Homo sapiens: one gene and its partner. The protein of the gene in region 1 purifies or fractionates together with the protein of each later gene. This does not show direct contact. Each region holds a gene or a part of one and is shown on either strand. Other genes may lie near its edges.

Region 1 (3,321 bases):
GGCGGGTATCCCAGTTACACCTGCGCAGTGGGCCATTATTACTACACCGCCCCTACCACCACTCTCCACCGGGAAAACCCCCTCAGGAAGGGCTCCTTCGTACACTCACAGCCTGACTCTGTTTACCCTTCTATCCCAAGATACCAAGCCACTTCTAGGTCCCAGTCACCTCCAAATAGAGGTGAGCAGAGGTTAGCTGGACTTCAGCCTTCAGGGTTTTACATTTCCACCTGGGGACGGGGGCTTACCCAGCACTTGCAAATGGTAATGGATGTGGCCTTGGTGAAACATAATCAATCTTGGGACTAGCAGGATAAACAAATGTGTAATTCATGAATTTGCTAATTGTCCTTCATTTTGATCTTCAGCCATTTTTCCTGGAATCTCTGCCCGACATACATCTCATGGCAAGGACGCAGAGATGCCAGGAGCAGGCCGTGGAAGCTGCTGGCATCCAACCTGGACACCTGGACTGGCCTTCCTCCCAGCTGCCCACCTCCAGCCCAGGCCTCCCTGCCCCAGACATCACGCAAGGCAGGAGGCCCGTGGCACTCAATCTTTTATTTTCTTAAACTGTACACAAACGTACAATACTTTAACAGCAAGTCTATGGGAAAATTGTTTGGTTTTAAATTATTATGAAACAGAATCTAAGGGGAGCTTTATTAAATAAACATAAAGATGAGGATTTAAGGATACACACCTGCATTCTATCATAGTCATTTTTACTCTACCTTCTGGGTGTGTAAGGATGGAAAAGACACATCAAACCGAATAAACAAAATCCATTCATACCCTGAAACGTTGGCAGGCCACTCAAGGGACTGCTCAGAACGTCCACCTCATCTCAGATGGCCTCACCGTCTAATAAAATTAAAACTGATCTGTTGGCCTCTTTGGTTCCAAAATTATGTATAATACATTTAACTGTATTCTTTTTTTTTTTTTTTTGCTGCTATAAAAATAACTTTTTTTCAAATGGCAGTTTCTGACTAATCATGCAACTAAATCAGTGCAAACATTAAAAGCAATCATTCGCTTAAAAAAGAAGCAAAGGATTTCATTTCAAGTATAAAAAATATAAAAAGAGTCGTACGAGTCCAGTTTCGTCTAGTGTGGGTCAACCCTTTAAATTGCATAGTTCACGTGGCACTTGGACATCTAGAGGGCGAGCGAGTTCGGCGCTCGGCCAAGGGCCACTTCTGGACACACGCAGATCGGCAAGTGCTATGTCATGTGCGTTCAGGCAGGTCTGCAAGTGCTATGCGGGCGGGCGGGCAGGCGGGCAGGTGAGTGGGCAGGGGCCACGTCCACGGCCAGCCCTGATGGCTGGGGCCCACATGGGCAACTTCTGCAAATCAGCTGAAAGCCTTCCCCATCTCTCCAAGACCAACTAGGCTGCTCCCCTCCCTTGGCCTCCGCTGAGGGGACACCCCCCATCCTCAGCAGTTCAAGAATGCCTCCTCCCCGCCATTTCCTCCTGCGGTCTCATCCCCTTGCCTAGGGGTCATTCCCACCCGTCCCCAAACCAGTCCTAGAGGAATGTCCCCAATGAAGGGCACAGATTGCAACTTTTTTTCTTTCCATTTAGAACAATTCAGATTTTCACTTAAAAGGTCATACCTGGTAGAAAAGTCCTTTTTCAGTTATACAACTGGCAAGGATGACCTGTCAACTGTTGGAGATCAGTTAAAGCATCAAATTTAGCCCCCTCTTCTCTCCCTCCCTCCCCACCCCAAAAACACACACACACATAAGTCATGTCAGAGGCCCAAGCCACAAACAGTCAAACGGTCATTGCCCCTGCTCCCAGGTCTCTGACGGGTTGTGTCCTTTCTGGGTCTCTTTCCCTCGACAAGGGCATGGAAGGACAGGCTCCCCAGGCCTTGAAGCACGAAGGATCCCAGGCTGGGGAAGAAGCAGACATCGAGCCAGGCAGAGCAGGCCTGGTAAAAGCCACGGGGCACACGCAGCCTCCGCCGAGCTGCGCTCCCCACCCCTGCATCTGCTTTTCCTCTCCGTGGCTCTCTCTCTCTCTCTGCGTCTCTGTCTTTGTGCTTTTATGTGTGCTCGGAAGGCGCAATTCAGAGTGGCCGGGCCAGCTGGTGGGAATGGTGGCTGCTCACCCCATTCTCTCCGACTGACAGGCATTTGTAGCTAAGCTGCCATTTGTCACCGCATCCATTTGCTGGTATCCTGGAGGCTGCTGTGTGGGTGGCAGGATGCGTCTGGCTGTGCGTGGCTACGTGTGCATTTTAAAGTATTTCATGTCAGTTGAGGGTTCTCGCTCTGGTTTTGACTGGTTGCTCTATGAAGCTGTAGAAAAATATCTCAGGCCGCACCCTGGCACTATCTCCACAGCCCAACAGAATGACTGTACTCAGCCCACCGTGTACCCCCGTTCCCGCGGGGGCTGGAAGAAGCCCACCCGGGACTGCCCTCCGTGCCCCACCACCGTGCCCCTGCCTTGCACTGTCAGGCGCAGCCGCACTCCTCCACAATCATGTTGGGCACGTCCCGCTTGACGATGTTGTACTCATCATCGAAGTACAGCATGGACATGGTGCTCAGCTTGGTGGGAATGCAGCAGGAGTTCACCGTGCCGGGGTTCAGACCCCGCATGCGGTACTGGTTCACCACAGCCGTGTGGAAGGAGGAGGCAGAGCCGGGGACCCCTGCCAGGTAGGCTGGGCAGCTGCCCTCACAGTAGTTCCCGTAGTAGCCGGTGGGTGCTATGATCCAGTCGTTCCAGCCGATGAGGCGGAAGTCAATGAAGAACTGTTGCCTGCAACAGAGGTTGGTCCGGCCATCGCACTCCAGGCCTCGCTTGCGAATGCGGTGCCTGCTGTCGCCCAGCCGAGCCTGCACCACCACAAAGGGCCGGTGCGACTCTTCGCCTGGGTCCACGAACACCGGCACCACGGCCAGCTCCTGGCAGCTGTCACACTGCACGTCTAGGTTGAGTCGCCGCTCGCCCCGCTCAAACAAGGCCTGGATGGCCTCCGTGAGTGGGAAGGTATGCCAGCCGCTGCGCTTGAGGTCCACCCTCTTCTCCACCATGTTCCACCTGTCACCGTGGCCCTGCTCCTGGAAGTACACTTTGACCCGCACCTTCCGCCGGCTGCCCTTCTCCAGGACGTAGGGCAGGAGTTTCAGGTAAAGCCACAGGCTGGCCTGGACCACAAACAGGTTCTGGTTGCCTTCGTTGGAGATGAAGAAGTATAGGCGGACCCGGGAGGAGGCGAGGCCATCTGCGGAAAAGGGGAAGGGCGAGCCAAGTTAATTCAAGGAGAACACAAGGCAATGGGGGAAACACACTCT
Region 2 (3,653 bases), on another chromosome or scaffold:
GGTTCTCCTCAGTGGCCACACACTCCTGCCTGGAGGCACAGAATTTTCCATATACCCCTCACCTGGGGGATGCAAGACTCCCCCAGGCCTGCCCTGCCAACCCCTCCTCACAGACAGAGCACCTCATGGGCAACACCAGGGGGACGGTGTGAACTCACCTCCCCTACAGGAGACCCAAAGCCAAGGAAGAACAGCCAGGGGTTGACACTGAGACCCCTCCTCAGGGCTAAGGTAGGACAAATAGGGTGTGGAAGGGCGTGGGGCCATGGCTACCATCTCAAGAGCCCCTTCTTGGTCCTTTATCTCCCACTCAGACATCCTGAGACCCAAATGGCCCAGTGGGCAGTATAAGCGCAGGTGGGTCCAAGAGGAAAGGAGGGCAAGTCTTGGGGTACCTATCGTAGCAGTTGAAGTCATCTAGCCAGCAGCCCTTCTTCACGAGCTCGATGGTGCCAGAGCTGTTGCGCCAGGAGGCGTAGCAGTGCAGCCGCTTGTCCTGCTCGCCTTCGCAGCGCTCCAGGCCGCTCTGGTTGGTGCGCTCCAGCTCCCAGTTGGCGTTGTAGTAGATGCACTCCCGTGTCTCAGCCTCCCCACGCCCAGAGCCTGTGCCCCAGAGAAAAGAGAACCACTGAGCATGCCCCTGGGACCACCACCCAAACCCCTACTCCCAGTCCTGGGTGCCAGGCCACCCTGAGGGAGGGAGGCCGGGTGGTGGGTTGGGGTCACCAACCTCCTGCACTCACCCCTGGACGTAGGCCACCCATCCGTCCCACACCTCTTAATTTACGTGTGCCAGCTGGCACCAGCCCCCACCTCATTCTGCAGCCCATCACAGCTGCCCCTAGGCCTAAGCAAAAGGGAGGAGGCAGGAAACCTAATGCCACAGAAGGATGGATAAACAGCCAGACAGACAGAGTCCAGATGCACAGAAAGGGCACCAACACCTGAGGCTCCTGCGTGGGGGTGGGGGCTACTTCCCTGCTGCAGCAGAAACCGATGAAGAGGCCCCCTTAAAACCCCAGTGCACATCGGAATCACTGTATGTTGCAGGTGTGGGAAAGGGGAGCAGTGTTCATTCAAATACGTATTTCCAGGCCCAATCCAGACCCATCCCAATGGGAATGGGGGCAGAATATGTGCTTTTAATCACCCCTGTCTGTCTCAGGTGATTGTGATAAAGATCTCAAGGACCACCTGGGAAAACTACAAAGGGGAGTGGCTTCCTGCTGCTCCTGTCTCTGCCCCCAAGCCCCCTTCTCACAACAGTTCCCCAGGGAGACCATGCCAGTGGGTCCTCCACAACTCCCTGCCCATACGGAATGGAAAGGACCCTGTAAGTGTCCTTTCTACACCCAGCAACCACACCTGGTGCTCGGCAGGGCTGGAGAACTTAAGGAATGAGGCCTGCGTGTACAGGGTAAGCCTCCCAGAGTCACCAAGGGGAATACATGCCTCAGGCAGAGGAGAGCTAGCTGGTGGCTTAACCTGCAATCACAGATCATTCTCCTGGCTAGGCTCCTGATGACCCCAGGGCACTCCCCATCACTTCTGAACCCCCTTCCACCTGCTGCAGGAAGTGCCATCCAGGTGGACAACGACTTCAACCCCCACCTGCCCATTCAAACACTTTCCTTCAAACTTGATTTCAAACATTCCCCAAATCCATCTTCCTCACCATCCCCTACAAAACAACCTCCAGTCCCAGCCCCAGTCTACTCCCACTACCCGCAGGAACCACATAGCCCTGACATAGGAAAGAGTATGGAGATGCCAAAGGAGGTTCGGTTCTGTCTGAGAGCTCTGCCAGCACCCCATTATAGGCCGCCCACAATGGAGGCAGGTGGTGGCATTTACAACCTCACTGCCAGAACCCCACACAGACACCCGAGAGGATAGTTGCACCAAGCATCCAGCCATCCTATCCACACTTTTTGGGCCCACATAGGCCAGTGACCTGGCACCACTCCTGGCTGGTCTTCTCCTACCACTATTCCCATCCCAGGAAGGAGGGAGGGGTCAGAGTCAATCCCACCAGACAGCCAGCCCACCAGCAGCCAAGAGCCCTACTTCGCCATCAGCCTGAAAGGCTGACTGGAGTAGGAAAGAACACGAACCCTGCCCTGACCCTGGGGGAGGGCAAAGTACCCTGAACACTAGCGTAGCCTAAGGACATCCTCACGCTCATCTCCACCCCTACTGTTGGCCTTCATGAGGAAAGAGCTTGATTTCCCAGGGTATACCCCAGAGAGAAGGATACTGACTGGCTGTCAGGTGAAAGAAGCCCCCCACCACTGGAGCGGCCATTCTCCTGTCAAACCCAACCCCTTTCTGCAACTCCCTGAAGTGACAGGATGCTTCTTCCAGGGGCAGGAGCAAGCAACGAATCTCAAGGATCCAGGTAGCACCTAAGGGTCCGAAATGTCACCCAATCAGAATGGCAGTGCCCAGCCACAGCTCTGGTCATCCTGCACCAGGTGGCCTAGGCTCTGACACCTGTGAAAGGAAAATGCATGGCCTCCTGACCAGTCAGTCAGCTGGGACTCAGCCTCTTCTAAAGGAAGGGCCTCAGGGTCCACAGAGAGGCTTACAAGGGTACACACTGGCTTCCCCAGCCAGGCCCTTCATCAAGCATGTGGCTTTAAGGTTTAGAGGGAGAACCTGAGAGGGTGGGGTGGGGGTAGTAGACCAAAGGCTGAACAAGCACACCGGGGCCAGGACTGAGGCTTGCACCTACATTGTCCCTGTCTGCCTGCAGCAGCACCCAATTACTGGGTTATTCGAAGCACCCTGCCCAGAGGCCACAGGGCCTCCTCTCCCCAGGCTGGGCCCCACTGCATCCACGGCAGCAGTTCTAGTGGGGGTCCGTGGAGACCTGAGACTTGTGGGGCCAGCCATGAAGCTGCACTGCAGACAGGGAAGCTGGGCACTCCCCTACCTTCCTCCCCTCACTGCAGCCACACCATAATGTCACACCCTTGAATGTGTTTGGCTTCTAGGCTTAGCGTAAGTCGGAAGTTACCACCTCTGGCCGTAAGGTTACCCACCTTCCTCTGATTTCGGCTCTTCCCTCTCCCCTGAGACCAGGCAAACTCTCTATTTCCACTGGCCCTTGTGCTTCCCCTGCCACCTAACTTAACCACCCTTGACTAATGGCCTGTTGTTGCTTAAAGGATTATTTCAGACATCCAAAAAGTGTACCAATAATATAACCAAAAATAATCTCAAGAGGAAATAACACAATGAACACTTGTATGAGAAATAAAACATTACACATGTACTCGACAACTACTTTCTAAATGTCAGGCTTTCCCCACAAGACTGGAAAGCCGACAAAGGCAGGACCCTTGCCGTCCTAAGTGGCAGAATCATTCCAAACACATCATAGATGGATGGGTGGACAGACAGAAGGACAGAAGGGTATAGGTATCATGGCTAGAGCAACATGTCGAAAGGAGGGGACAACAAGGATGGCCTCAGCCTGCAGCCCAAGCCCTAGGTCCTCAAAGAGTTTCCATCTCCATTCAGACAAGCAACAAGCCTCTGTGCTGAGGCAGGAGCCCAAACAAGGGAGGCCAACAGAGTAACCTCCTCTCTCCAGGCCACTGATAAGTCAGGGACCACCCACTTGCCACTACCATGGGCAGTACCCAAGT

What was found. Proteins that work in one complex are often made in the same cells at the same time.
Region 2: the proteins of INHBB (region 1) and ACVR2B purify together in Homo sapiens (affinity purification with western blotting; 2 studies listed by BioGRID and IntAct, with this or other methods). This does not show direct contact.

Annotation. Positions count from the first base shown.
Region 1 is NC_000002.12:120,349,029-120,352,349, reverse strand, and holds the end of INHBB (inhibin beta B chain preproprotein), read right to left. Parts: intron 3,252-3,321; coding exon 2,476-3,251; 3' UTR 547-2,475; downstream 1-546. UniProt on the Homo sapiens protein: Inhibins and activins inhibit and activate, respectively, the secretion of follitropin by the pituitary gland.
Region 2 is NC_000003.12:38,474,237-38,477,889, reverse strand, and holds part of ACVR2B (activin receptor type-2B precursor), read right to left. Parts: intron 604-3,653; coding exon 396-603; intron 30-395; coding exon 1-29. UniProt on the Homo sapiens protein: Transmembrane serine/threonine kinase activin type-2 receptor forming an activin receptor complex with activin type-1 serine/threonine kinase receptors (ACVR1, ACVR1B or ACVR1c).